4 linked regions of the Homo sapiens genome follow. The protein of the gene in region 1 purifies or fractionates together with the protein of each later gene. This does not show direct contact. Each region holds a gene or a part of one and is shown in the gene's direction. Other genes may lie near its edges. The genes, in order: RAMP3, HDHD5, SFXN2 and LYPLAL1.

Evidence for each region.
Region 2: the proteins of RAMP3 (region 1) and HDHD5 purify together in Homo sapiens (co-immunoprecipitation; 2 studies listed by BioGRID and IntAct, with this or other methods). This does not show direct contact.
Region 3: the proteins of RAMP3 (region 1) and SFXN2 purify together in Homo sapiens (co-immunoprecipitation; 2 studies listed by BioGRID and IntAct, with this or other methods). This does not show direct contact.
Region 4: the proteins of RAMP3 (region 1) and LYPLAL1 purify together in Homo sapiens (co-immunoprecipitation; 2 studies listed by BioGRID and IntAct, with this or other methods). This does not show direct contact.

Annotation. Positions count from the first base shown.
Region 1 is NC_000007.14:45,174,283-45,182,033, forward strand, and holds part of RAMP3 (receptor activity-modifying protein 3 precursor), read left to right. Parts: intron 1-3,026; coding exon 3,027-3,159; intron 3,160-7,751. UniProt on the Homo sapiens protein: Accessory protein that interacts with and modulates the function of G-protein coupled receptors including calcitonin gene-related peptide type 1 receptor (CALCRL), calcitonin receptor (CALCR) and G-protein coupled estrogen receptor 1 (GPER1).
Region 2 is NC_000022.11:17,155,984-17,164,052, reverse strand, and holds the start of HDHD5 (haloacid dehalogenase-like hydrolase domain-containing 5 isoform 2 precursor), read left to right. Parts: upstream 1-4,775; 5' UTR 4,776-4,801; coding exon 4,802-4,927; intron 4,928-5,060; exon of another isoform or gene 5,061-5,596; intron 5,597-8,069.
Region 3 is NC_000010.11:102,731,529-102,738,635, forward strand, and holds part of SFXN2 (sideroflexin-2), read left to right. Parts: intron 1-194; coding exon 195-255; exon of another isoform or gene 256-279; intron 280-623; coding exon 624-690; intron 691-1,330; coding exon 1,331-1,380; intron 1,381-2,025; coding exon 2,026-2,075; exon of another isoform or gene 2,076-2,080; intron 2,081-4,333; coding exon 4,334-4,381; intron 4,382-6,134; coding exon 6,135-6,234; 3' UTR 6,235-7,107. UniProt on the Homo sapiens protein: Mitochondrial amino-acid transporter that mediates transport of serine into mitochondria. Involved in mitochondrial iron homeostasis by regulating heme biosynthesis.
Region 4 is NC_000001.11:219,190,404-219,198,154, forward strand, and holds part of LYPLAL1 (lysophospholipase-like protein 1), read left to right. Parts: intron 1-2,678; coding exon 2,679-2,848; intron 2,849-7,751.

The DNA of each region.
Region 1 (7,751 bases):
GGGACAGATGACAGGGGCCTAAGGGCCAGGGAAAGTACAGGCTGGGTCCTCAGGGACCTCCTGACTCCCATGGCCTCAGCAAGCCCTCATGTGTGCGGCTGGCCACTGTCCCCACACTGGCTGCTGTTCTTGGTCCATCTCTGGGCCATTGACTGGTATTTGCTGAAGCCATGTTGCTTTGGGCACCTGGACCCATCTTGCTCCACGCTCCTTCTGCTACCCGGGCAGCTCAAGTCCTCTTAGGTGATCCCGATGGGGCCTGTGCATTTTTTATCCCCCTATAGCCACTGCACCATCCCTTTCAGTGGTCCTGATGCAGCCCTGGTCATGTCCCCTTCCCGCCACTGACATCGGAGCTCAGGTCTCCTTCTGACTGTGGCTGCCTGTATGCGCAGCCCCTATATGGCCTGTGCATCTTGGTGAGACTTCCTGACACTCTGTCCTGGGTTCTGCCCCATCTATTATATGCTCTATCTTCAGTCACTCCCCTAGTTGGACTGAGATCCCTGTGTCTTCCTCTTGCCCCCTGGAACCCAGATGGCAGGTCCTGAAGACAGGAACCAGACCCTCTCCCTCTCCCCTTGTCCAAGGATCCAACACAGTCCGCAACACATGATAGCGGTGGTCCAGGATGTTTTGCTAAATCTTTGGATAAATTTCACTGGGTTGACAGTGGGTACTGAGCCACCATCTCCATGTGCAGACCCTGTGGGACCATGTGGGGGACCTGTGCTACATGCAGGGATGGGACAGACACAGAATGAGCACATGGCCTTTCTGTGAAGAGAGGTGAGCACCCCAGAGGCTCACTCAGGGGTTGGGGCCCTAAGTGGGATGTGTGGCCTTTCAGAGAATCCAGGCCTGCAGCTGTGCTGATGAGACAAGCGAACGTGGGGGTCAGGGACATTCCAGGTGCTGGAAACCATGCAGAGTGGCCAGAAGGCCCTGAAACACCTGTTCTGGGAGAGCCAGTCACTGACCCTGTGTCCAGGGGCCATGGTGGTGACTTCACCCAGCCTGTGTCCTTGCCATCTGCTTACACATGGCAGCAGGCTGACCACTGAGCCACAGCCTGTGTGCTTCCCATCTCCAGGGTTCTCTGGGGCCTCAAGATGCCCTGGGTCCTGGGGAAGCTTGCATGGACAGAAGGGGAGATGTGAGTGCCTACACAGGCTTCTCAGACCACCTGCTGGGACCTGCAAGTCCTCTGTCCAACTTTACCAGCTGTGACCCCCAGGGGCCCTTCTCAGTGCTGTCAGCCTGGATTCTGAGGTATAGGTTTGGGCAGTCACGAAGGGAAGAAGGTGCCTTGAGTCTGGGAACCCACGACCCTGAACAGCTGGCAAGCCCTTTTGTGTTCTCCTCTGTGGGGTTCCAGCTAACACCTGTCCTCTGTATGTGCTCCAGGTGTTCTGCTGCAGGTGGGGGTGGGCTGAGCATGACAGTTCCCTTAACCCTGGGATCTGGACCCCTCCAGCCTTCCTTTGGCCTTAGACAAGCCACTCCCTTTTGCTGGCATCAGACGCTTGTTCAACCAAGGGGCTTCCAGGGTCTTCCCTAATGTTAGCATTAAGCAGGCTATGACTCTTGAGGAGTGTCTGGGGCGCTGTGTTCTGGTGGAGCAGGTCCCTGCACCAGAAAGTGGTCCTGTCTAAACCTGCCATTTCCATATTAAAGTGACTTATTCAGCACTTGCTCAGTGCCCAGGGTGAGCCACACATGGAAGAAGATCAGACTCTGAAATGCTCACTGCTTTCTCTATCATTCAGCCAAGACTTATTGAGGGAATGAATGAATGATACGTTCCTGGAGGTGGCACTGAGCATTTCAGACTAAGTTAGCCAGCTCAACCTCCTTGTGAGGTGGGGCCTGTATCCCTCATCTTGCGGATGGGGAAACTGAGGTTGAGCTGGTAACCAGTGAAGTGTGGGTGTGAGCCAGGTCTGTCCCATGTCAATCTGGAACCATTTTCTTATCTGCTTCTTCATGGTATTTCCTCTAGCCCAGCACCAGCCGCCGGAACACAGATGACAGGGCTGTGTACACACATGCTCATGTATGCATACACATATGCACTAAGATATAGATGGCAGGGCTGTGTACCTACACACACACACACACACACACACACACCAAGACACAGACAGCAGGGCTGTGCGTGCACACACACACACACACCCGAGACACATATGCCTGGGGTCTCTCTTGAGTATATGATGAGCACCAAAGCAGAGGTCAGGTGAGGGAAGTTTAGGAGCAGGGAGGTCCTGTCGTCTGGAAATGGGATGACCGTGGAGACAGGCCCTGAAGGACAGGGGGCATTGCTCAGTGGGAGGGAGGATGTTCCCCATGGGGAAATGTGTGGAGCAAAGGCATGAGGAGGAAGGGGAGGGGATGTTTTGGTGGGCAGAGGTTGGGAAGGGCAGTGGGGAAATCCTGGGACAAGCAGCTTGTGTCAGACCCTGAGAAAGTCCAAAGGACTCATTCCCATTGCTGGGAACATGAGTCCCTGCAGTGGCCTCAGCCCCTGGTTTCCCAGAATTGGAGGGGGTCTTTGACCGGGAGGGGTTGGTCTTTACTGGCCTGGAGCCCTCCTCTGCCGCCCCTGCAGGCAGTGGGATGGTCCCCAGGTCTTAGAGTCCTCAGGATGTTCCCAGGCCCCTGGGACTCCTAAGCTGGAACTGGAGCCTCTTTGCCAGCCCTGATCTGCCTGAGACCCTCTCACCACCTCCCAAGGAGTTTGGCCCAGGGTCTCACTGCCTGATCCCTGCCTGTGCCACTGCCTGTGAGGCGGTGAAGTGAAAAGGTGGACTTGTCCTGTCTTGGGGACAGGTCCCTGTGTGGAGCCTCCTTTCTGCACTGACAGGTAGGTCAGGGTGGAGGGTGAAGGACTCCGCTGGAACGGTCTCAGGCTTGCAAACGGAGCCTTGCTAGTGAGTACTCAAGTTATGGCCCCTTGGGCCTCCCCTGTCCTGGCATCCCCAGTGTGAACTGTAGTGGAATTCTTATGGCTGTCCCCTCTCCAGGTGGGTGTCCCAGAGCAGGCGGCTGCAACGAGACAGGCATGTTGGAGAGGCTGCCCCTGTGTGGGAAGGCTTTCGCAGACATGATGGGCAAGGTGGACGTCTGGAAGTGGTGCAACCTGTCCGAGTTCATCGTGTGAGTGCCACTGCTGGGCGTGGGATTTGCTCTGACCACAGCGCTGCCCACTGCCCAACCACTGCCTGACCACAGCCTGACCGCACTCTACCCAAGGCCTCACCCATGCCTCACCCACAACCCACCGTAGGCCACCCACAGCCCTTTCATGTGCTGCCCCACACTTTGCCCAGGGCCCCAACCACGCTCCTATTCACACTCTGCTCTTGGCTCTGGCCACCCCACCCACATCCCCCTGGCACATCACTCACGGCCCCGCCCATGCCGTGCCCCTGCCCACGGCATTTGTGCTCCCCACACCCACAGCGGGTTCCCAGCTTCCTACCCCCCATTCCGCATCCTCACTCTGATGTTCTAGCAATTCTACACTGTGCCTCTGCTTCTCCCTCTCCTCTGTTATTTAGGAATCCTCCCCATGCCTGCTTTTCCTCCTGATCCAGATTAGTGCCCTGCCCTGGGAGTGTCCAGTTCGGGGGTTCCCTGGCCTGGGGGTGCCCTGTCTGGGAGGTGCTCTGCCTGGAGGGTGCCCTGCCCGGGGAGTGTCCAGTTTGCGGGTGGCCTGGCCTGGGGGGTGCACTCTCCCAGGGGTGGGTGCTGCCCTACCCCAGGGGGTGCCCTGGCCTGGGGGATGCCTTGCCTGGAGGGTGCTCCACCTCTCCTTACAGCTGGAGCTGGGTGGACATTGTCATGTGTCTTTCTTACAGCACCAGTCATGGCTGGGTCTGTCCTCAGTGGTCAGAGGACTTAGAGGAATTGGGTTCCAATGGTTTATATCAGGTGTAATTGTGGACAACACCTCATAGTGAAGGGAGGTCCCCTTGTTCTAGAAGCTTCCCAAGCTTTTCATCTCCTTACCTCCTTGGAAATTGCTCATGGCCTCACAGTCCTCTGCCCCACCCCACTCCACCTCTGGCTTTGCAGTCTTGTGCCACCCCCTGGTGGCTGCTGCCAGACCCTAAATGTGCTGGCCTCATGCTTTTGCATGTTAGCACCCCAGCCCCTGTCTTCCGTAGAGACACTGACCATGGCCCTGCCCCAGGAAGCCTCCCCGGCCCTGGCCATTCTAGTGGCCCAGCAGATGGGGGCTTCTTGAGGCTGTCACATCTGCAGCCCCACTCTGTGGGGGAACTGCTTGCTGAACCAAGTGGAATGGAATTCTGAGTCTGCTGGGAAGGGGTGCTGGGATTCAGGAAGGGGTTTTGCAGGCTCCTCCTGGTCCTCAGTGAGCCTGGACACAGGCCTGGAATGGACCCACTGGTGGGGGTGGAGTCAGGGAAGAGGAGGTCATAGCTTCGTAGCTTCTGGTCTTGCTCCTCTCTGTAACCCGCTAAAGCCTTGGTAAAGAGACTAAATAGAGATGTCCAGCCGTGGATTGGGAGGACAGGAGTGGAGGCAACCCGATGGGCATTTAGGAGCCAGTGAGTGAGTGGGCAAGAGCCACTGACTGAGTGCCCTTGGTGAAGTCAGACCTGATGCTGGAAAAGGGGAGCTGGGAACAGCCAGGTTGACATTGCGGAGCCCTCCCACGACCCGGCCGGCAGCACCAGCTCCCAAGAGAGTGGCAAGAGTAGCTGAGAAGCAGTGAGGTGTCCAGAGCCCTCCTCCACCCCAGCTGGACACTGGAGGTGTATTCTTGGAGCTGGTGACACCAGGGTTTCTGGGCCTTCCCATGTAATTGAGAACGTGGCACAGTGTCCCAGAGAGGGAGGCTGGAGAGAGCGGCTGATACGCATTATCTTTTGCCACTGGGTCCAGGAGGGTGGTCTAGGGTAGGATTGGAGCTGTCCTTTCTGAGGAGTGAGACCAGCCAAGAGGAAGGACCTAGAAGCAGTGACCCCCCCAACCCCTGGAAGCTCTGGGGACAAGCTCTTCTGCAGGGTCCCAGTGTCTCATCAGCTCTCAGTCCCCACTCCCAGTCACGAGTCACTTCCAAGCAGGGTCCCTGGAAATCTGACCTAAGGCTCTGACCCTGAAGGACAGAGACCAGAGAGATGGAACCAAGCAAACCCGGGGGCCATGCACCAAGAAGAAAACTGCAAACGTCACGACTGATATCTTCAGAGGGCAACAACTATCTCTCATGTGATGAATGAGAACAAAGAAAGAGGTTTAGAAATGGAAGATGCAATAGAAGTGAAATGGAATAGAAAGGTTGGAAGGGAGATGTTGAGGAAATCTCCCAGGAATAGGAGAGAGAGACAGAGAAGATGATCAGGAGGTCAGTGGTCAGTCCAGGCGTAACACCAAGATAGTAGGAATTCTAGAAAGAGAACAGGAGAATGGAAGGATAAAGGGCCCTTGCCAGGGGCTGAGGGCATGAGCTTGCAGCCGGTGAGGGCTTGCCCGGTACTAGCACGAGGGAGGAAAATGTCCCACATGGACCCTGGAATATCAGAGCTGTGGAAACAAAGGAAAACTTCTACACCTATCCAGAAGGAGGAAAAAAATGAGCTCTAGGTTGGAGATGAGGGGATCAGAGGCCTTCAGGCTCCCCCACCGCAGCCCTGGAAACCGAGGACTGTGGGATGCAAGGACCTGAGAATTTCGGACTGTGATTTCTCAGCTAGTGTGCTATTTCCCGCCAATTTGTCCACTAATTAGGGAGAAACGAAAATACTGTCAGACGTGTGGCACCTCCAGCATCTGATTCCCACATACCTTTCTCAAGCTCTGGCGGCTGTGCGCCAAGGTGTGGAGCAAACCACGACAAAAGAAGCTATGAGATTTGGGGAGCGGAGCCAAGGCAGGAGAGGGAAGCCCCAGGGAGGGCGGTGCCCCAGCGTGGCAGTACACCCTGGGTGGAGGCAGCCTGGCCCAGGTGGAGGGCACTTGATGCTTACCTGACATGGTGACTGCCTGCCCATGCCCTGCAGCCCAGCTCAGTCAAGAATGAAGGACACTCCTTTCTTTCCCCTGAATGTTCATTCTGCTTTGGTCCCCACTGAAGCAGGGTGGGCCTTGGTGAGCTTAGAGGAGAGGTGGCTTGCTCCCCTCAATAGGACTGGTCCACATGACGACCCCATCAGGAGTCGAGTCATGGCTGGGAAGACCCTATTCCCCAAACTCGCCCATGGCCTGCCTGTGGCCTTCCCTGGGGAGGAGTCTCATTGCCCCTCGGGGCAACCAGAGCGTGTCCTCTCCTGGGAACCTCCCTCCAATAGCAGCAATGGGCTCCTTCTGTACCCAGTTAAGGAGCATTGCTATGGGATTTCCAAATGCAACACTATATTGCCTGGGAACACACTCAGGTGGTGAAACATAAAGGAAGGTGGGCAAACACCCCAGAGGTGGGTGGGGGGAGAGGGAGTCTGACTGGGGGGTTTGCCCGGCTTCCAGCCTGCTGGGCTCCTCTCCTTCCCATCCTGGGTTGTGGTGCATCTTTTTTAGGGAGAGTGCTCTGGGGAGCCTGACTGAAGGAGGAGTGGAGAGGCCCCAGATTATCCAGGGGATGAATAAATCATAAGTAGTTCCCGGTTTTCTAGAGAAGCACTGAATGTGGACCTCTCTAGATATGTGACAAAAATGCAGATTTTGTGGATCCACAGAGATGGGTGCTGTGCTCAGCTCTGCCCCAAACCTAACAGCTGGGGTGGGCTCACCCCATGACCTCCTCTGTGCCAGGCACTTGCTGGGGCACATGGACCTCAACTCATTTGGTTCTCTCAACCACCTGATAGGATAAGTGTTATTAAACCCACTTACAGATGAGGAAACTGAGGTCCAGGGAGGATAAATGACATGGCCCATACCACAAAGATGGTGAGTGGCTGAGCTGGAGTTGGAGAGGCCCTGCCATGTTGGCTCTGCAACCTGAGCCTGAAGCCACTGTCCATGCTGTCTTCTGGGATTACCTCTGCTCCGTGGGCTTCTCCATGTGGCCTAGCTTTGGCTGGGAGTGGGGTTTGGGAACAGCAGGGGCTTTCAGCCCTGCCTCACCTCCTCTTGGGACGGTTCTGGGGCTAGACATCACTCCTCTTGCCCTGTAGACTCGCTGTCCACAGAGGGTCTTCTCCAGGGTCTGTCTGGCTCATCTCAGCCCTGGGGATGGTTGTTGGGGGGTGGCATTCCTGGGTAGCAGTTCAGTGGAATGACTTTGGAGGCACAGAGGTTACCGCATGTGATTCTCATCACACACATAGATGCTGGGAACTTCTGAAGGTGAAGGCTGTTGCAGGGTGTTGTTAGACGGCTCCCCAGCTCCTGGATCAGCTGGCGGGGGGTTGGGGTGGACAGCAGGCTACTGAATCTGAGGCCCTGTGGGAGAAGCAGGTCAGGGAAGATGAGGGTTTGTCCATGGACCTAGCTGTTGAGGTGTCTCTAATGCCTGGGCATGTCTCAGGTGCTGCATTGTGGCTGAGGCCCAGGAGAGCCAACAGCTTTGTACTTGGATTCGAGGCTGTTTCTTTTGCTCTGGCTGTTCTCTGCTGACACTACCTGGAAAGGCACAGGTGTGTGTCTGACCTACATTCCAAGGTGCTGAGAGCCAGCCTTGGATCAGTCAGGAGCTGGGCTGAGTGACTGTACCTGGGCTTCCCAGACCCTTCCTGGGGCATGGGGTTGGGAGACCAGGAGAACCCTGGGTGGAGTAGGTC
Region 2 (8,069 bases), on another chromosome or scaffold:
GACGTGGTTTCACCTTGTTGGCCAGGCTGGTCTCGAACTCCTGACCTCAGGTGATCTGCCCGCCTCCACCTCCCAAAGTGCTGGGATTACAGGCCACCGTGCCTGGCCTCACCTGCCTATTAATGTAAACTGAGCACCCATCATGTGCAAGGCATCCTGCATGACAGGACTGTGAGGGAGACAGGTGAATCAGAGAGACACTGCCCTCAAGCAGCTTAGAGTCCAGGGCATCGAGCTTGTACACGTGTGAGGCCGGAACTTCCCACAGTGTATCTTCTGTTCTGCTACCTTTCCTGAAAAGAACTGGCTCACCTCGGATTCCTGCCAGGAATGGCTGCTGTTTTATGGGGTTTGGGCCACAACTGAGGATGACCGAAAGCAAGGCAGGCCTGGGAGAAAAATGTGGCTCACTTGAGATGAGCAGGGCCCACAGATATCAGTGCTGGGGCACCAGTTGAACAGAACTGTGGTCATATAGGTGTGGCTGGGGGCTGGGGATAGAGAACAGGGAGCAGCATCTGTTCTGGGATGGGAAGTGTATGGTCTCCAGAACATACTGGTCCAGCGTCTGCTCAGAGACATGCTAACTCCTAAAGGAGAGCTTCCTAAAGTGGGTCAGCAGCATGAGCATCCTGGGGAGCTGATCAGATATGCACATCCAAACTCCAAAGGGAGCGCCATCAATCTGGGTTTTTAGGAGACCTCCAGGTGATTCTGATGGATGCTCAAGTTAGAGAATCCTGGACCTCTGAAGCCAGGTAGCAAGGTGGGGCAAGTCAGCGCATAGAAGGCTACAAATTCCAAATATAGTGTAATCCAAGCACCGAAGCCCTCTCTGAGACAAAAGCTGATTTAACAAACCCCACGAGTAACATGTGATTGAAGACTGGCGAGGCCCTTCTAATTAACATCCACGGTCCATTTGTACAACAGACGGTACAAAACATAATCTGGATAAACTCAGAAGACGTGCTCATATAAAGATTTGGGAAGTCTCCAAATTCAATCAAGTGAGCAGAGCAAATATTCTGAACCTGAATACGAAAGAACATCTTAATGTGATTGTGTCGTAACATGACTGGGAATCAAAATAAAGATGCGTTAAGCAACAGCAGGGCAGGGGTTCTGCTTACAATGTCAGCCACAGAGCCTGAGTTTGTTAGTGTTTATTCAGCACTGCCCAAAGGATAGAGCTAGGGGTGGCAGAATATGTGCTCCGTGCATCCGGCAGGATGGGAAGACACCTAGAATAGCACAGGGTAGACGTGAGTGCCCTTGTTCCTGGAAGTGCAAACTCTTTAACATGGCAAGCCTTAGCTGTGAGATTTCTCCTTAGAGGATGGTTCTTACCTTTTACTGGCTTATGAACCCAGAGAATCTAATAAAGACTTATCACGTACACACACAGTCTTTGATTCAATAATCATGTTGGAATCTCCCACAGTGCACCTTCTGTCATCTTTCCCCGAAACAAACAGACAAACAAACCAAACCAACTAAAACAACAGCAAAACCCAGCCCATTTCTGGTTCCTGCTTTGGATGGGCTGGAATGGTCTTATGGCATTCAGTCCACAATGGAGGAAGAATGAAAGCAAGGCAGGCCCATGTGGGGAACACTGCTGACTTAGGCTGAAACTCCTGAAGATTAATAACACTAAGTATGACACAGTCCTGATCACCAAGAATATTAGTTATCTTTTGCTGTATAACGAATTATCCCAAAGTGTAATGACTTAAAACAACAAACCTTCAGTATCTCCCTGTTTCTGAGGGTTAGGAATTCAGGAGTGACTTAGCTGGGTGGTTTTGCCTCAGGGTGGTTCATGAGGTTTTGGTCAAGGGTTCCGCCAGGAATGGAAGCTCCACCTCCAAGAAGATTCTCTCTCCTGACTACTGGTAGGATGCCTCAGATCCTCACCATGTGGGCCTTTCTATAGGGCTGCTTGAATGGCCTCACCACATGACAACTCTACTATGCGTCTAGCTTTCCTAGAATGAGTTATCTAAATGAGGGCAAGGTGGAAGTCACAGTATCTTTTATGACCTAGCCTTGGAAATCAACTACACTCACTTCTGTCCCATGTTATTTATTAAAAAGTCAGTGAAGTCCAGCCCACACTCAATGGGAGGGGAATTAGAATTAGACTCCAGGTTTTTTTTTTTTCTTTTTTTTTTTTTGAGACAGAGTCTCACTCTGTTGCTCAGGCTGTAGTGGCACAATCTTGGCTCACTGCAACCTCTGCCTCCTGAGCTCAAGCGATCCTCCCACCTTAGCCTCCTAGAATAGCTGGGACTACAGGTGTGTGTCACTATGCCTGGCTAATTTTTTTTTTATATATATATTTTGTGGAGACAAGGTTTTGTCACGTTGCCCAGGCTGGTCTGGCATTCCTGGACTCAAGTGATCCACCTGCCTCGGCTTCCCAAGTGTTGGGATTACAGGCATGAACCACCATACCCACCCAACTCCAGCTTTTTTTTTTTTTGGAGACATAGTTCCGCTCTGTCGCTCAGGCTGGAGTGCAGTGGCTCAATCTCAGCTCAGCTCTCTGCAACCTCTGCTTCCCAGGTTCAAGTGATTCTCCTGCCTCAGCCTCCCAAGTAGCTGGGATTACAGGCACACACCACCATGCCTGGCTAATTTTTGTATTTTTAGTAGAGACAGAGTTTCACCATGTTGGCCAGGCTGGTCACGAACTCCTGACCTCAGATGATCCACCTACCTCGGCCTCCCAAAGTGCTGGGATTACAGGCATGAGCCACTGTGACCGGCCTTTTTTTCTTCTTTCTTTTTTTTTTTTTTTTGAGATAGAGTCTCACTCTGTTGCCCAGGCTCGAGTACAGTGGCACGCTCTCAGCTCACTGCAACCTCCACCTCCCAGGTTCAAGCGATTCTCCTGCCTCAGCTTCCCAAGTAGCTGGGATTACAGGTGCATGACGAGCTAATTTTTGTATTTTTAGTAGAGACGGGTTTCGCCATGTTGGCCAGGCTGGTCTTGAACTCCTGATCTCAGATGATCCGCCTGACTTGGCCTCCCAAAGTGCTGGGATTACAGGTGTGAGCCACCGCGCCTGGCTATGCTTTTGAGGAGCCGATTGTCAAAAAAAACTGTGGGCATGTTTAAAAGCCATCATACCAAGAAATTTCTAATGACTAAATCAGTTTCTAGGTAGTTTAATAGAAGGAAGGGATTAGGAACATTGCAATCCTAGAGAGCTATGTCCCCTGGCAGGGTTTAAGTGTCGGGCTATTGTGAGTTTGACTGACTTGAATTAGTCTTCCAAATTCTGATTAGCTGTAGTTGAACTGAATTAAGATCTTGCCCTTCAAAGCTGAGGACCAAAGGACACCGCTAACTACTTCTTCATTTTATTATTATTATTATTATTTTTTTTTTTTTCAAGACGGAGTCTCACTCCGTCACCCAGGCTGGAGTGCATTGGCGCAATCTCGGCTCACTGCAACTTCTGCTGCCTGGGTTCAAGCGATTCTCCTGCCTCAGCCTCCCGAGTAGCTGGGACTTGAGGCGCCTGCCACCGCGCCTGGCTAATTTTTGCAGTTTTCAGCAGAGACGGGGTTTCACCATCTTGGCTAGGTGGTCTTGAACCCCTGACCTCCTGATCCACTCGCCTCAGTCTCCCAAAGTGCTGGGATTACAGGTGTGAGCCACCGCACCCGGCCCTATTTTATTATTTTTAAAATAGAGAAGGGGTCTCCCTATGTTGCCCAGGCTGGTCTGGAACTCCTGGACTCAAGTTTTCCTCCCACCTTGACCTTCCAAAGTTCTGGGATTACAGGGGTGAGCCACCGCACCCTGGCCTGCTAATGTGTGAGCTAGTGCAGTCTCTGTCCATATCCTCGACTCCCTCTCTGCTAGTGCTAAGTACATTGTAGGGTCCCGCGTTTTTAGCATAGCTATACCTATGAATGGGCCAAAGAATCTGAGGGCATCCTACACATTTCAAACGGTGGGAATGGAGACCTCTTTCCTCCAGCAGAATCTCCCCTCATGACCGGGGGACTACCAGATCCAGCTCTGCTAAGGGCCTCCACGGACGGAGTCGGCTACCTCTCCACTTTCAGTGACCGAAATCCATTCTTTGTTCATTCACCCTTGTGTCTACTCCGGGAAACGCGCAGCGGACACAGTCGTGTTCCCTAAGTGTTTGCTGACTTAGTCATCTGGCCCTCTCTGGAGTAGTCATTTTGTACCTTGTACTACATTCGTGCCTCTACCTCTCCGCAGTGCGCGCGGGGGCGGACTCACGTGCGCAGTCTCCCTATGCGCTGGGAGGGCGTCAGCAGGTTTACAGAAACAATGAAAGACTTAACAATTGGCGCGCGACGAGCGTCCCTTGACTGGCAGGGGCCCAGAGGACCTGAACATCACTAAGGGTCTGCCCCAGCGGCCCGGCCCTGAAGTCAAGGTTGAGACCCCCGGCCCAGACAGTCCGCGAAGCTGAGGGAGGCCGGCCTGGGGCCTGCCGCGCAATGTTACCGGGATCCGCAGGCACAGGGCGATAGTACGGACGCCGCCGCCCAGGCCGTGCCCATTGTGCGCCGCGGCCAGCTCACCGCGATCTCGGTCTAGGAGGCGGCGGGACCCCGCACTTCTTCCTTGCAACGGAGCCCCTTTGGCCTGCGGGTCGAGTTCCATAGGCGCCCGACGGGCTCCGCGCGCTTACAGGACTACAACTCCCGTGATGCCGCGCGCGCCGACCGCTGATTGGCTGTGCAGCGGACGGACTCGCGGGGGGGGGGGGCCGCACGCCGTGCACGTGCGCACGGCGACGGCCGGATGGCTGCGTGGGGCTGTGTGGCTGCGCTCGGCGCGGCGCGTGGGCTTTGCTGGCGGGCGGCGCGCGCGGCTGCGGGGCTCCAGGGCCGCCCCGCCCGCAGGTGCTATGCTGTGGGCCCCGCTCAGGTGAGGACGTCCGGGTTCTGGCCGAGCCACTCGCCACTCAGGGCCGGAGGCGGGGCGGGGAGCCGCGGGGAAGGAGGGGCGGCCGGGCTGGTATCCCAGCCTCCTGGGAACTGCCTGGACCGTCGTCGCGCCCGAGTGCATCGCGTTCTTGCTGGAGGGCGGATGCGCCCTGCCTTCCTCTGACTCGCTGGCGGCCTCGGAAACGCTACTCCCGCGGGAGAGCGCTCGTGGGACGGCCTGGGCCAGGCTGCTTGTCAGCCCCTGCGCTTCCCGGCAGTTTCCGCGTCCCTGTTTTCCCTGCGCGTCTTCTGATTTCCACCATGAGGACGTTTGGGTCGTGATTTTCATCTGCATGTGGAGGAAACTGGGCCGCGCGCCGGGAGCCGCGCCTGCGGGTGCTCCGCCCCCAAGTGCCTGTGGGTTTGGTGCGGGCCTTGGGTTCAGTTCAGCTCGCTGTGACCTCGACTGAGCGCTGGAGGCTCCGCGGGCGGGAGCAGGAGGGCTGGAGCCGGCGCCTGCTGTGTGCCCGGCGCGGTAGTGATGTGTGAGCCTCCCCGCAACTTCTGAGAAGGTGTGACCTTGTGTGGTCAGGAAGCCGAAGCTTGACGAGTTTTCAAGTACGTTTTCTCAGGTCCTGCAGCTGGGAGACGGCACAGGACACTAAACCAGGTTGGTCAGATCCACGGCTCTCACGCTCCCTTGGGCCGTTTTGCCTTTTCTGGAAAAAGGAATCACTTTGTCTTCTAAACGCACAAGTAATATTTTACATTAACATACGGATTTCACAGTAATCCTTGCATTTTTTTTTTTTAGACGGCATCTCTGTCACCAGGTTGGAGTGCAGTGGCGCAATCTCTGCTCACTGCAACCTCCGCCTCCCGGGTTCAAGCGATTCTTCTGTCTCAGCCTCCCGAGTAGCTGGGATTACAGGCACCCGCCACCACATCCGGCTAATTTTTGTATTTTTAGTAGAGACAGGGTTTCACCATGTTGGCCAGGCTGGTCTCGAACTTTTGACCTCAGATGATCCTCACATCTTGGCCTCCCAGAGTGGTGAGATTACAGGCATGAGCCAGTGCACCCGGCCAAATTACTTGCATGAAAAAAACACATAGTGCTTACTTTGTGCCAGGCACTATTCTAAGTACTTCACAGTTATTCGTATAATCTTTATAACAACTCCGAGGAAAGTACTATTATTAGTCTTCCCATTTTATAGATGGAGCAGAGGCACAGAGAGGTTAAGCAGCTTACCCAAGGGCACACAGCTGGTAAGTGGCAGAATCTGGAACTCAGGTAGTCTGGTGCCAGAGTCTAAGCTCTTAACAGCTGTATTATTTTTATGATTTTTAAATATGGAGCAGCTAAGGTTCAAAGCAGCTGAGTGACTTGGCCAGTGTCACATAGCTAGACGTGACCAAGGTGGAAGTTTGAAATTAGAATATGTTGATAAAAGGACTTACAAACTGTCAGGATATAAATATAAGGAAATATCGCCCTTATTTATAACTGTTGTATTGGCTCTAGCATCTCTGCAGAGTCCCGAAATGTCTCCAAGTGACTCTTCCGGTAGAGCAGAAAAAGAAGAATGCAGGATGACAGAGTTTGAGCACGAGCTTTAGAATTGAATCCTGTGCAGTCTGTTAGCGGCTTCACTTAAGGCAATTTACATAGCTTTCCAAGCTCAGTTTCCCCATCTATGTAATGGATCTATTACTTGTAATCCCAGCTACTCGGGAGGCTGAGGCAGGAGAAGCCCTTGAACCTGGGAGGGAGGTTGCGGTGAGCGGAGATCGGGCCATTGCACTCCAGCCCGGGCAACAGATCCTGACTCTTATCAAAAAAAAAAAAAAAGAAAATTAACCTTAGTTTAACTTTCTTGCTTTACCAAGTTTTTAATTTTTAAAATTTTTTACTCTTTTGTAATAGCACTTAGTTTAAAACACAACACATTGTACAGCTGTACTAAATATATCTTCATTTATATCATTGTTCCATAGCTTTTTTCTTTTGTGTGTGTGTGTGTGTGTGTGTGTGTGTATGTGTGTGAGACGGTGTCTAGCTCTGTTGCCCGGGCTGGAGTGCAGTGGCGCCATCTCGGTCCACTGCAACCTCTGCCTCCCAGGTTCAAGTGATTCGCCTGCCTCAGCCTCCCAAGTACGTGGGATTACAGGCGCCTGCCACCACGCCCAGCTAATTTTTGTATTTTTAGTAGAGACGGGGTTTCACTGTGTTGGCCAGGCTGGTCTCGAACTCCTGACCTCATGATCCGCCTGCCTTGGTTTCCCAAAGTATTGGGATTAGAAGCATGAGCCACCGTGCCCAGCCAGCTTTTTTTTTTTTTTTGAGACGGAGTCTCGCTCGCTCTGTTGCCCAGGCTGGAGTGGAGTGGCGTGGTCTCGGCTCACTGCAAGCTCTGCCTCCTGGGTTCACATCATTCTCCTGCCTCAGCCTCCGGAGTAACTGGGAGTATAGGTGCCTGCCACCACGCCTGGCTAATTTTTTGGATTTTTAGTAGAGATGGGGTTTCACTGTGTTAGCCAAGATGGTCTCGATCTCCTAACCTCGTGATCTGCCCTCCTTGGCCTTGCAACATGCTGGGATTACAGGCAGCTTTTTTCTATTAAAAAAAATTACAGGTGTGCACCACCACGCCCGGCTAATTTTTTGTATCTTTGGTAGAGATGGGGTTTCACCATGTTGGCCAGACTGGTCTCGAACTCCTGACCTCATGATACGCCCGCCTTGGCCTCCCAGAGTGCTGGGATTACAGGCGTGAGCCACAGTGCCCTACCTTAAAAAAAATTTTTTTTTTTAACTTTTGTTAAAAATGAAGACACAAACACCTACTAGCCCAGGCCTACATAAGGTCGGGTCAGGTAATTGATATCACTGTCTTCTGCCTTCACACCATGTCCCATTAGAAGGTCTTTAGGGGGCAGTCATATGCATGGAACTGTCATCTGCGATAACAGTGCTTTCTTCTGGATATCTTCTGAAGGACCTCTCTGAGGCTCTTGAGGTGTCACTCTTATCAGAAATATGTCCATTGTGGTTTGCTTGGTTTCTTTTTTTTTGTCATAGGTTTGCTTGTAAACAGATAATGTACCATAAACATTCTTCTCTAGTAATGAAAACCTTT
Region 3 (7,107 bases), on another chromosome or scaffold:
CCGCTCTCAGCCACTGCCCTAGATCACTCCTAAGATACTGCTTATTGGAGTGCAGAAGGAAGGTCAAAGGCCCAGGCTACAGGAGGTGGCTTCCTGGAGCTTAAGTGGCCTGGCCTTGGTCCCCTGGCATGTCATGTGGCTGGCAGGCTTCCATCACCCCTTTCCCAAGTCCATTAACTCCTGTCTGTGTTTAGGGAGCTCATAAAGGGAATCTGCGTGAAGGACAGGAATGAAAATGAGATTGGTCATTCCCGGGTGAGCAGAGGCCTCCCTTTGGGGTGGGAGGAGGGAATTCCCTCTCATACCCTGTCCCCTCCTTAGTGGTCAGAGTAGGCACCAATATAGGATTGAGAAGCCTTTTCTGGCTCCATCCTCACTCCCTATCAAATTTTCCCCATGTTTCTCTGTTCAGAACAGGCCCCTTCTCTCTTTTCTCCATCATTTCTGGTCCATAAAAACCTGGCTAGGTGGGAGGGGATAAAGTGAGGTCACTCAGCAACTGGAGGGTCCTTCCCTTCCCCTTTACCATCTCAGACTTGGCCATGATGCTGACCCAGCCCCCTGGTGCAGCACATGTACACTGGATACATCATTTCTGACAACTTACTATTTTCTGCCCTCAGAGAGCTGCGGCCATAGGCATCACCCAAGTAGTTATTTCTCGGATCACCATGTCAGCTCCTGGGATGAGTAAGATGGGGAAGCCCTTCCATCCTGGGGAAGCCTGTGACACAGGGTGGAGGTCTCAGCCACACTCAGCTTTTGGGTGGGAGGTGGGGCCCACCTTCTACAGCCATGCTTCTCAAACTGCTTTGCTTGATTGCTGTAAGCCTAGAAGAACCACACTAGTTCCTAGAACATCAGTTCATCCAAGGTTTGGGGTAGAAAGTTATTTTCATTTTATTAATACTTGTCAAGCCCTTGTGTTTAATGTTAGACACAGTGTGGGGTGCTAGGGAGAGTGATAGAGAAAATAAATTCCCTGCTTTGGTTTGCTTCCAGCAGTGGGTGTATTGCAAAATTTGTTTGCACGAACGTACAAATACATTTTTGAGTTTTGAGAAGGTAGCTTTGGACCTAGCAGCACATGTTTTCCTGATATTGCAAGTGTGCAGGTTGAGAAGCTTGGGAAGCACTGTTCTGCCAGGACTTTGGGGAGAAAGTTTGGGGGTGGTCATGCCTACTTGCTCTTCTGTTCTGCCTAGTGGTAAGTATTTTCTGGAGCTTCTGCTGAAGGAGAGGGAACCACTTGGTTCCTGGTCTGACTTCAGAAGGAGTCCTGGGGAGAGCCTCCCAGCCCTCCCCTCAGCTTCTCCCTGGTCTCTTCCAGTCTTGCTGCCAGTCATCATGGAAAGGCTTGAGAAATTGCACTTCATGCAGGTATGTAGGGTTTGCTTTGGCATTTTCCCTGCCCAGAGTGCGTCCAGCCACATCTGTCCCTAGGGATACCTGACCTGCCCTCCCCCACCCATCCTTCCCTTTAGCTACCATGCTGTCATCTCACTCAAGCCCACACCAATCTCCACTGACCTCCTGTTTAGATATACCATGGCCAGTTTCCTTACCTGGTCTGCAGAGAACAAGGCCTTCTTTAAGGGCCAGGGGGTCCTTGCCTGTGGGTTTTTCTTTTTTCTTTTGAGATGGAGTCTCGCTCTGTCGCCCAGGCTGGAGTGCAGTGGCGCGATCTTGGCTCACTGCAAGCTCCGCTTCCTGGGTTCATGCCATTCTCCTGCCTCAGCCTCCCGAGCAGCTGGGACTACAGGTGCCTGCCACCACGCCCAGCTATTTTTTTTGTATTTTTAGTAGAGACGGGTTTTCACTGTGTTAGCCAGGATGGTCTCGATCTCCTGACCTTGTGATCTGCCCATCTCGGTCTCCCAAAGTGCTGGGATTACAGGCATGAGCCACTGCGCCCAGCCACCTGTGGGCTTTTCTAGCTGGCTGATCCATGGCAGAGCAGGGTTGGGGTTCACCTTAAGGCATAGAAGTACCATGTGGATCTGTCTTTTATTTGTTTTTATACAGAAAGTCAAGGTCCTGCACGCCCCATTGCAGGTCATGCTGAGCGGGTGCTTGTAAGTATCATATTTTGATGATTTGGGTTCTGCGTGGCTGGAGCACTCAAGATGTGTCGTCTTGTCTAGCCCGTGTTGGAGAACGTGTACTCCTTTACCTGACTTTAAAAGTGGTCAAGCTCAGAATACCTGTGGTCCATCTGGAAAGCTCTCACCCCATCTTTTGTGAGGGCATCAGGCTGGCTAGACTTTATGCACGTGTCCATGTAGGAAGTCCAGTGCTGAGGTGCCCTCCCATCCCAGGGTCTCTCCTTTGACCTTAAGTCTGGAGCAATTTTTTTGTTTTTTGCTTTTTTTTTTTTGAGATGGAGTCTCGCTCTGTCGCCCAGTCTGGAGTGCAATGGCGCAGCCTCAGCTCGCTGCAACCTCCACCTCCCAGGTTCAAGCAATGCTCCTGCCTCAGCCTCCTGAGTAGCTGGGATTACAGGCACGCACCATGATGCCTTGCTAATTTTTGTATTTCATCATGTTGGCCAGGCTGGTCTCGAACTCCTGACCTCAAGTGATCCACCTGCCTCGGCCTCCCAAATTGCTGGGATTATAGGCATGAGCCACTGCGCCTGGCTGTCTGGAGCAGTTTTACAGAAGAGATAAGAACGAGGAGACATAGCTTTGGCTGGGACTGTCATGTGTCCCAGACTCACACAGGAGGGAAATGCCACCAGTCACGTCAGGGTTCTTAGGTATCTGCCATTAACTGGAGATGTCCTAGCGTTCACCATGCATTTCAGGGCCACGAGACTAATGACAGCATCACTAACAGCTAACACTGACTGTATATTTTCTCTGTGTCCCCACTGAACCCAGTGTTTCATATCTATAATTTCACTTAATTCTCCCAGCCTTAGAAATCTACATATTATTATCATCTCCTTTTACAAATGAAGAAACTGAGACTTAGACAGAGTAAGAAACTTGCCCAAGGGTATATAGCTGGTAACTGCTGGAGCTGAGATTTGATCAACAGTCTAACATTATGCTATACCAACTTCTGCTAATTGAGTAGTTACCATGGGCTGGGTGCTTTACATACATATCTCATTGAATCCTCACAGTAACCCTGCAAAGTAGGCACTGCAAAGTGGTCTGCAGTAGCCCTAAAAAGTAGGTTGTCCTCCCTCTGTGTCTCTGAGGTAACTTGTCCAAGATGGCACAGCTAGTAAGTGGTAAAACTGGGATACCAACCCAGGTCTGTCAGAGTCCCGCGTCCTGTAAGACCTTGCCTCCCAAACCCTGGTCCATGCCAGCATCGTTGGCATCCTCTGATAACTTGTTAGAAGTAAAGACTCTGAAGTCCTTCCCCAGACCCCCTCAGTTGGCACCTGGCATTTTAATAAGCTCCTGAAGTTATATGCACAGTGAAGCTGGAGAAACTGCCTTTCACTGTGCTCTGACAGCCCAGGTGTTCAACCAATAAAGAAGCAGGTCTCAGAATCCACAGACTCACTCCTCCCCCTCCATAGTGCCCCTCCCCCACTCCAAAGTGCCCCTCCCCATCCTGGTCACTCCTCCCGATACAAGTCAATCCTCCCCCTCCAAGTTGCTCCTCTCCCTCCTCATCCCTCCTCCCCTCTGTGTCCTTCCTCCCTCTCCATGTTGCTCCTCCCCTCCATGTCCTTCTCCCTCTCCATGTTGCTCCTCCCTGTCCAAGTAGTTCTTCCTACTCCAAGTAGTTCCTTCCCTCCAAGTCACTCCTCCCCCTTCAAGTCGCTCCTCCCCATCCAAGTTGCTCCTCAACCTCCAAGTCATTCTTCCCTCTCCAAGTCGCTCCCCACCCTCCATGCTGTTCCTCCAAGTTGCTCCTGTCCCTCCATGTCGCTCCTCCCCCTCCATGTCCCTCCTCTCCCTCCATGATGCTCCTCCCCTCCATGTCGCTCTTCCCCCTCCATGTTGCTCCTCCCCCTCCAAGTTTCTCCTCTCCCTCCTCGTCGCTCCTTTCGCTCGATGCCAGCAGTGCCTGTGCTCCTTAGGCCTGCTGCTCACAGTCCCTGTTTACTTCATTGTCTTCTTCCTCTGCTTGAACAATGCAGTAAGGGTGGGAATGAGTGATGGGGGTCAGGAGGGTACTGGTTTTATCCCCCTGCCAGAATGAGTATCCTCGCACTGCGGGAACAGGAGGAGGGTTGGAGGGAGAGGATATGGTGCCAGCTGGGAAGGCAGGCCAGGTGCCTGGGCATTGCTCCTTTCCCTTGGGGATGGGGGATGGACGGGCCTGTGGGGAGATGTCCCCTGATGCTTTGGTTTCTCCTTTCTTGCAGCCTCATCTTCATGGTGCCAGTGGCGTGTGGGCTTTTCCCACAGAAATGGTATCTGCTGTTCATTCCTTACTTGGTTTAATTGACCATGCTGCCAGCGCGCTCCCTGATCTGCCTGCTGTCCAGAAGGAGACAGGGAAGGGGCAGGAAGGGCAGCACCTGTCTGAGGACAAGTGTCCATCAGCCTAAAGGCTGGGCCTCTTAACCCTGGTGAATTCTGACAAACGAAAACAGATCTGCGAGGGGCAGGAGAAGCCAGGGACAGGAATAAGGTTGCTCCCTCCCAGTGGAGCAAGCACTGCCTTGAAGAGAAGGTGGGGGAGCAACAACAGACTTTCTCTTCCTGCCAGCTGGGTTATTAGGAAGCTCTCCTCTGGCTGGATCTGGTTTTTAACTTTTTTTTTTTTCTTTTTTTTGAGATGGAGTTTCACTCTTGTTGTCTAGGCTGGAGTGCAGTGGCACGATCTCGGCTCACCACAGCCTCCGCCTCCCAGTTCAAGTGATTCTCCTGCCTCAGCCTCCAGAGTAGCTGGGATTACAGGTGCCTGCCACCATGCCCAGCTCATTTTTTTTTTTTTTTTTGAGATGGAGTTTCACTCCGTCGCCAGGCTGGGGTGCAGAGGTGCAGTCTCGGCTCACTGCAACCTCCGACTCCCTGAACGATTCTCCTGCCTCAGCCTCACGAGTAGCTGGGATTATAGGCACGTGCCACCACGCACAGCTAATTTTTGTATTTTTAGTAGAGACGGGGTTTCACCATGTTGGCCAGGATGGTCTCAATCTCCTCACCTTGTGATCCGCCCGCCTCAGCCTCCCAAAGTGCTGGCACTACAGGCGTGAGCCACCGCGCCTGGCCTCATTTTGTATTTTTAGTAGAGATGGGGTTTCACCATGTTGGCCATGGTTGGTCTTGAAATCCTGACCTCAGGTGATCTGCCCGCCTCAGCCTCCCAAAGTATTGGGATTACAGGCGTGAGCCACCGTTCCCCGTTGGTCGTTAACATTAAATAAGGGGGCTGGTCGTGGTGGCTCACGCCTGTAACCCCAGCACTTTGGGAGGCCGAGGTGGGCAGATCACCTGAGGTCGAGAGTTCAAGACCAGCCTGACCAACATGGAGAAACCCCGTCTCTACTAAAAATACAAAATTATCTGGGTGTGGTGGTGCATGCCTGTAATCCCAGCTACTTGGGAAGCTGAAGCAGGAGAATTGCTTGAACCTGGGAAGTGGAGGTTGCGGTGAGCCGAGATTGCACCACTGCACTCCAGCCTGGGCAACAAGAGTGAAACTCCATCTCAATAAATAAGTAAATAAATAAATAAATAAATAAAGGGACAGGCAGAGGGCTGACAACCGAAACCCCTCTATTTCCTTTGTGTGTCCAAGAAGGAGGAAGCAGGGAGAAGGGATGATGGAAAAGGGAAGGGATACATCAGACTAGGGGGTGGAGGGTGACTGACCCCAGGAGACAAGTGTAGCTTGAATATATACCCAGACAATTCCAGTCTCCCCTTCCTCAGTACTCTAGTTCAATACTACTTCCATGGTCATCTGCTAGACATCTCTTGTGTCCCAAGCACTGTGTTTGTAATCTTGTGGAGAAGATGGAAGTTGAAACGAAGAACCATAGCCCAAGGAGAATGAAGTCAGGCCTGCGTAATGGTAAAGCAACATTGTGGTATACAGAGGCCAATAATAATCCTAGATGGAAAAATCAGGAGGGCTTCTTGGAGGTGATATTCATCTGAGGGTAACTTACTGCTTGTTCCTGGTGGCATGCTCATAATCCACTTCTCTCTTTTCAGTGAATTGCCAGTTTCCTATCTGGAACCGAAGCTCCAAGACACTATCAAGGCCAAGTATGGAGAACTTGAGCCTTATGTCTACTTCAATAAGGGTCTCTAAATGCCCCACTTCAGCAAGGACCAGTCTATTCCCATATTCACCAGCTCCTCCTTAGCTACGTGCACACTTGTGTCCTCCTTCCCCTTTGCCAACAAGGCCTGAAGGCCAGGGTAGATTGGGGGGTGGGACAATGAATGCCTCATACTTACACCCTGGTACTGGTTGATTGGACCTCAGGGGAAAAAAGTGAAAAAGGGTAGCAAAGGCCAATGTCTTCTAGCTGCTTCCTCAACCCCTGTCCCCTGGAGACCAGAAGCTGAGGCCCTCTCAGGGAGGAGACATCCAAGCAAATCATTTGGAAAAGTTAGGAAACCTTTAGGATTCTGGTTCCAGCCAGGGTTGAGGAAAAGACCTTGGATCAAAAGGAAGCTTCTATACCTCTTTCTTCTTCGCTTCCTCCTCTCCCAAGCAATGGAAACTTTTACCCATGTAATTCTAGCTGAACTCAGGAAAAAGAAGGGGGAAAGGACTCTGTCCCCTTGGGGCTCATCACCCTTCCACATCCTCCTCCTCGTTGCCCCCTGGTCAGGCAGCTTCTTTTTTTTTTTTTTCAAGATGGAGTCTTGCTCTGTCGCCCAGGCTGGAATGCAGTGGCGCGATCTCGGCTCACTGCAAACTCTGCCTCCTGGATTCAAGCGATTCTCCTGCCTCAGCCTCTCAAGTAGCTGGGATTACAGGGCACCTGCCACCACGCCTGGCTAATTTTTGTATTTTAGTGGAGACGGGGTTTCACCATGCTGGCCAGACTGGTCTCGAACTCCTGACCTCAGGTGATCCGCCCGCCTCAGCCTCTGAAATTGCTGGGATTACAGGCATGAGCCACCACACCCAGCCCGGACAGCTTCTTTGGGAGTGCTGCTAACCTTGAAATTA
Region 4 (7,751 bases), on another chromosome or scaffold:
AAATGAATTTGAATCCTTAGGTTACTCCATGTATGAAATTCCCCCAAAATTCAAGGCTTAGGTGTAAAAATGAAAACAAAAGTCTTAAAAGAAAATCTGGGCTACTATATATAAAAAATGTATGGATTGGCAGGAGCTTCTTAAGCAAATCTAGAGACCCAGAAATTTAAATTTTTTTTTAAAAAGACATTATATCAAATGTAGAGTCTTTTGTCCAGTAAAAAAAAAAAAAAAAAAAACCCTTAAGTACATAATAACGTAATATCAATATTCAAAATAGACTTGGAAGAAAATACCTGAAATATATGCAACAAATATTTGTCAATAATAGACAAAGTACTCTTTTAAACAAGAAAAAAATTGAAATGACAATAGGAAAAAATAATAGCAAATGACATCAGTCAGCAATTCCACTTATGTGGAGTTTTAGAACAGGCAAAAGAAATCAATGTTGATAGTCTCACTCAGTAGTTGCTTGGGAAGGTTACGGGAGTTGCTCGTGAAGGGGCATGATGGAATTTTCCAAGGAAAAGGAATGTTCTGTATCATTGTGGAGATGGTGGTTGCATTGTAAAAAGTAATTGAACTATACACCTAAAATGTGTGTAGTTCAATATAGTTTATATATGTAAATTATACCTCAATAAAGTTGGTTTTAAAACTTCAATTGATACTCTTAAATGGTAACATTTTAATGTATGTCAGCACCTACTGCTATTACTGCTGTGGGCAAAAGGATATTTTCCTACCTTTCCTGTAGAAAGGTAAATTTTTACAACTTTTATGGAAGCAACTTTGAGACATCTATTAAGACAAAAATTGTACCTTTTAATCCAACCTGTTTCTTGACTCTTTTCCATAGGAATAAAAGTTCCAGTAGATAAAAACACGTATGCATATGTTTAATGAAGCATATTTCTTAGTGGCTAAAAGCTGGGTACCAAATTAATTCCCATTATTAGGGGAATGGCTGATTAAATTGCAGAATATGCTTATCATAGGATATAATATAGCCATTAAAAGGGTAAGTTAGAACTGTAACTGATGAAAGGATTTCCATGAGATATTGTTGAAGGAAAAAAGCATGATGCACATAATAGAATCAGATAGACTACTTTATTTTTGAAAAGAAATAGTGTGCCAAGAAATAGCCTGTAAATATGCATATTTTAATTTATAAGAATAACATTGAAGGATATATTTCAGATCATTTACACAGTTTACCGAATGTAAAGGACAAGATGTGTGAGGGAGTTGGAGAGAAGAGGAGGAATGTAGAGATGGGTAAAAAATGAATAAGATTGACATGAAAAACATCTAAACAATGTATATATATATAATCTCATATTTAAAAAATTTTATGTATCTGCATAAACTTAGGGAAAACATTTAAGTTTTTATGTACTGACTTTCAGAGGTATTCATCATATCCATTTAAATTTTAGAAAATGTGTTACAAAGTAATGTTTATATGATTCTATTTGAGTAAATAAAAGATCCCCGTATATGAATTTTTGTTAAATTTTAGTCAGTTCAACTTTCTTGTTTCCAGGTTTTTTTTTTAGTTTCTCTGAGAAACTTTCCAAATATAACCTTGACGTTCAAGCCCCTTAAGTGGATGTCCATTTATTTTGGGGTGGTATGATCAATATTGAAAAATGGTGTAATTTTGTTCCCTTCCAGCACCACCCACTGGTCCTAAAGATTGTATGCATCCCAAGGCCAATGACAATTGAATATTTCTAGCTCCTTGAATATGCTGAGGTTCTACTTGGGTTTTTCACTAGAGAAGAAGTACAAAAGCATGTTCAGGTCTCACCTGTTGTCTTTTAGCCGTCTATTTTTGTTTTTCAATTTAGCTGCACATTTCATGCTTTTACTTTACTAACTTTGGTGGGTGACAGTATACAGCTAAATTTGAGATGGCAAAGTAGAGGAGGTATTGGTGTGGAAAGAATCCTGTGTCTGGGTTCATCAAAGGGAAATATTACTTGTCATTGGTTTAGAGTTCTTTCAAATTACTATAGGCACTTTTGTCACTGGCTATGTTTTCTTTGCCACTCTGTTTCTCATCATTACGTGAGGAGAAAGCAGGGCATGCCAAGGGATAAGGATTATCTTCTGTGCAACTCTTCCGTTTTTCATATTTGGAAAACATTTGTTCTCTGTGTTTATCTAATATAGCCCCCATCCCTCTCTGTGTTTGCCCACAGAAATCTCTAAGGTTTTTTTTTGTTCCCCTTTCATTTACATCTACCAACATAATACTTGAATACAGGACCCCCTTTACTCCATTACAGTTTGGAATATCTTGATGGTGTGTGTGCCTGTGCACGTATGTGTGTGTATTTTTTTTAACCAACATAGTATCCCAGAGCATGAATATACAATGAATGGATTAAGATTCACTGGTACTGTAACTGTTCTCCCTCTTAAAAGATGGAGGGAGTAGGTAAAGAGGATATGAACTGGCATTAGTAGATTTTAATGGATTAGATACAAGTATGGGATAGTTAATACAATATACATGAGAGTAGTTTTAATATGCATTTAACTTATAAAACTTAGAAGAAATTGAAATCATTTATTCAAAACACTATTATTTTGGTAATTAAAGCATCCATTTTCATATTCCCTTTTCCTTTCTTTTTTTTTGGGGGGGGGCGGTTGTTAAACAGATCATATACTCCTATGAAAGGAGGAATCTCCAATGTATGGTTTGACAGATTTAAAATAACCAATGACTGCCCAGAACACCTTGAATCAATTGATGTCATGTGTCAAGTGCTTACTGATTTGATTGATGAAGAAGTAAAAAGTGGCATCAAGAAGAACAGGATATTAATAGGTAAGACCTTTAAATGTTGGTAATTTATCACTGTTCACTTTTGTCTAATTCTATACATCAAATCTTACTTGGAACATTATTTAGAAGCACTTGTATATCATTCGATGCATTCATAGTTTCAGATAAACTTTACATATTGAGGATTTCAAAGATATTAGAATTATAAACAGCAGCGCATGAAACTTTAATTGATTTTCTTTTTGAATAATAACGGATTTTGAGACTCTTGTGGCAGTTAAAATTTTTCTTCTAGTTTAATTTTCAGTTAAGAAATTATTCATTTCAATTTTTAAAACATTTTACTTCAGTTACCTTAACTCTTATGAATATAAGTTTAAACATCTATTGCCATTAAGATATACAGTCAAAATATACCACTACATTTATGAAAATTATAATCTTCAGAGTTAATCTCACAAGAATATTTGTAAATTTTTGTTAGACTGTCTTTAGCAAGCCCTGTTCCTAAGGGAATATAAGTAGCTTTATATAAGCTCTTTATTCTGCTTAATACCTTTTTCTGTTTCTGGACTTAGCATATACATAAATTATTAAAATCTTTTTCTAATACATGCAAAAGTGAGATGGGGCATGTAGAATATGAATGGTACACGACATATTTTGGTGAAAGGGTTTTATTTCCAAATGTAACTATTTAACTTACAATGAGTTGTATTTAATGATGAAATTAAAAAGCAAATTAAGTATCCCCATTATGTTCTAAATAACATTAAAATGCACATTGAAATTCTTTATAGATGGGATTTGGGTAAACTAATAAACTTTCTTTGTGTTTATTGAAGTGCTGAACTGTCTGTTGAGTCATGAGAGACAACATGATATAATGGATAAAATCCATTCTATTCTGTCTTGGCGTTAGTTTCCACTTTGTTGAAAGCAGCGTGGCCTCTAGCATAACAACATCACCTTTCTGGTCCTTAGTTTCCTCATTATGTTTAACTCTATATTTCTGTGTTTCCATGTTTAACGTTGATGTTTAACTCTAATAGAGATAAACATGGAGCATTATGGGAGGACTAGGAAGAGTGTAGGGAAGGGATTCCCAACTTAGTCTAGGGGATTATGAAGTAGTTAGAAGATAGAATTCCAAACATGTGAATCATGTATCATTCAGTCATCATTCAATCTTTAGCAAGTATTTTTTAAGTCCCCACTATGTGCTACGCATTATTATAGATGTTCACGGGGATGTGCAGATAAGTAAAGCAAGATCTATCTGCCTTACATATTTCTTACAACCTGAAAGGGCCAATGAGATTCTTAAAGTGGTAACTATAATGCCAGCCAGGCTGTGATGAGTGCTCTAATGTGGTATAACTAATAGCTTTTCAAAGCCAATGATAGTATATATTTCTTTTTATTTCCCAGAACCTATCACAATGCCTGGCACAGAGCAAATACTCAGGAAATCTATAACAAATAACATTACCCAATCAATAAATTGTCAGTACTGTAGGAATTGAGAGGAAGAAGTAGTCACATGCATTTGGGGCTGTAAGAGAAAGATTTAATAGAAAGATGGCAGTGGCATTTAAGATGCACAAATTATTAAAATTTTAACTATTACAGTGTAGAAGTCTAGGTAGAGGGAATGATTTGTACAGTAAAGTAGAAGTGGACAGAGTAATGCTTTTTGTTTTTGTCTGTCTGGACAGTAGTTGGCTGTAACAAAGTTTGTGTCTAACTAAAAAGTACCTGTTGACTCAGATAGCCACAGTAAGAGACTAGAACGTGATGGCATAATGGTGACAAAAATGAGTTCAAATCTACAGTCCACCACTTCCTAGTTGGCTCACCACTTATTACCTACACTTAATTTTTGCTACCTAATCTGTAAAGTGGAAATAATAATATAATATCTGTTTACTGAGAGATGAACAAACTATTTGGTTTCTTCCAGACTCTCAGTAAATACTCTGTTCAGTTTTTAATCCTTTATTTTGTAGGTATAATAACATGTAATAATTGGTAAAGGATCATTAAATAATGTCTTCAAGTCATAAGAATTGTACTTTGAAAAACTAATTTGGCAGAAGGGGTAAGTAAAAGGATGAGAAGTCTGACATGGAGAAACCAGTATAATATAATGAAAGTCTGAAGTGGTGTGGTGGCAATAGGAAAAGAAAAGATCAGGATGAGAAATTGCTTTAAAAAATAAAAGTACATTCTTCATAAGCAAAAAAATAGATAAAAGGAGAAAATACTCTGAGTAGTACTCTTAATGAGTGTGTATTGAAGAGTTTATCACACTGAATGGTAACTGCTGTCCATTTGTCTCTTGCCCCATCCTCTCTCTTCCTTTCCCAGATCCATTACTTTATCTAGTTCATCTTTGAGTACTAGAGATATTATGGATTTTCTGCAGTATATTACATTTTAAAGAATCCTAGTACAACAAAATCAAATCTTTTAAAAATTTTAATTTTATTTTAAGTTCCAGGATACATGTGCAGGACATGCAGGTTTGTTACATAGGTAAACATGTGTCATGGTGTTTTGCTATACCTATTAACCTATCACCTAGGTATTAAGACCTGTATTCATTAGCTGTTTATCCTGATGCTCTCCCTCTCACCGCCTCCCTGACAGGCCCCAGTGTGTGTTATTTGCCTCTCTGTGTCCATGTGTTCTCATGGTTCAGCTTCCAACATGCAGTGTTTGGTTTTCTGTTCCTGTGTTAGTTTGCTGAGGATAATGGCTTCCAGCTCCATCCTTGTCCCTGCAAAAGACATGATCTTGTTCCTTTTTATGGCTGCATAGTATTCTATGGTGTACATGTACCACATTTTCTTTACCCAGTCTGTCATTGATGGGCGTTTGGATTGATTCATGTCTGCTATTGTGAATACTGCTGCAGTGGACATATGTGTGCATGTATCTTTATAATAGAATGATTTATATTCCTTTGGGTGTATACCCAGTAATGAAATTGCTGGGTCAGATGGTATTTCCGGTTCTAGGTCTTTGAGGAATTGCCACACTGTCTTCCACAATCCTTGAACTAATTAACATTTTCATCAACAGTGTAAAAGTGTTCCTGTTTCTCCACAGCCTTGCCAGCATATTAAAAATTCAAAATTCAAAAATTCTTGAATTTTTAATAATTGCCACTCAGACTGGTATGAAATGGCATCTCATTGTGATTTTGATTTGCAGCTCTCTAATGATAAGTGATGTTGAGCTTTTTTTCATGTTTTTTGGCTGCATAAGTGTATTCTTTTGAGAAATGTCTGAAGAGTCATTTATGACAAACCCACAGCCAGTATCATACTGAATGGACAAAAGCTGTAACCATTCCCCTTGAAATCCAGCTCAAGACAAAGATGCTCTCTCTCACCACTTCTATTCAACATAGTATTGGGAGTTCTGGCTGGGGCAATCAGGCAAGAAAAAGAAATAAAAAGTGTGTTCAAATAGGAAGAGAAGAAGTCAAACTGTGTCTATTTGCAAATGACATGATCCAATATCTAGAAAACTCTATCGTTTCAGCCCCAAAGCTTCTTAAGTGGATAAGCAACTTAAGGAAAGTCTCAGGATACAAAATCAATATGTAGAAATCACAAGCATTCCTATACACCAACAGTAGGCAAGCAGAGAGCTAAATCATGAATGAACTCCCATGCACAATTGCTACAAAGAGAATAAAATACTTAGGAATACAAAGGACTTCCTCAAGGAGAACTACAAACCACTGCTCAAGGAAATAAGAGAGGACATAAACAAATGGAGAAACATTCTATGCTCATGGATAGGAAGAATCAATATCATGAAAATGGCCATACTACCCGAAGTAATTTATAGATTCAATGCTATGCCCATTAAACTACCATTGACATTCTTCACAGAATTAGAAAAAACTACTTTAAAATTGGAACCAAAAAAGAGCCCATATAGCCAAGATAGTCCTAAGCAAAAAGGACAAAGGTGGAGGCATCATGCTACCCAACTTCAAACTATACTACAAGGCTACAGTAACCAAACAGCATGGCACTGGTACAAAAACAGACACATAGACCAATGGAACAGAATAGAGATCTCAGAAATAAGACCTCACATCTACAACCATCTGATCTTCAACAAATCTGACAAAAACAAACAGTGGGGAAAGGATTCCCTATTTAATAAATGGTGCTGAGTAAACTGGCTAGCCATATGCAGAAAATTGAAACTGGACCCCTTACTTACACCTTATACAAAAACTAACTCAAGATGGATTAAAGACTGAAATGTAAAACCAAAAATTATAAAAACCCTAGAAGTAAATCTAGGCAATACCATTCACAACATAGACATGGGCAAAGATTTTATGATGAAAATTTCAAAAGCAATAGCAACAAAAGCAGAAGTTGACAGATGGTATCTAATAAACTAAAGCACTTCTGCACAGCAAAAGAAGCTGTCATCAGAGTGAACAGACAGCCTACAGAATGGGAGAAAATTTTTGCGATCTATCCATCTGACCAAGGTCTAATATCCAGAATCTACAAGGAACTTAAACAAATTTACAAGAAAAAGAAAACCCCATTAAAAGGTGGGCAAAGTACATGAACAGATGCTTCTCAAAGCAGAAACAAATCTTAAATGAAGTTAAACACACATATAAAAACAGTAGCAGGAGAGGTTACCTGTTTGAGCACCTATATTTTCTTAGAGGGAATCATGTCTTACCAGCCAGATTGCCCATAAACCTCAAAAAAAGTCACCTGGGAGAAAAATATAACACAAGACTTGATTTTTCAATGTCTGTAAGCCCCCTCAAACCCCAAACTTGGGGCTCACTGAATGAAGATAATTTGTTTTTCCATTTTCTTCTTGAGAAAAAGATGATTTTTAAAAATCAGTGCCTTTGATATATTTTCAAAGTCCGACAATGTGATTGATT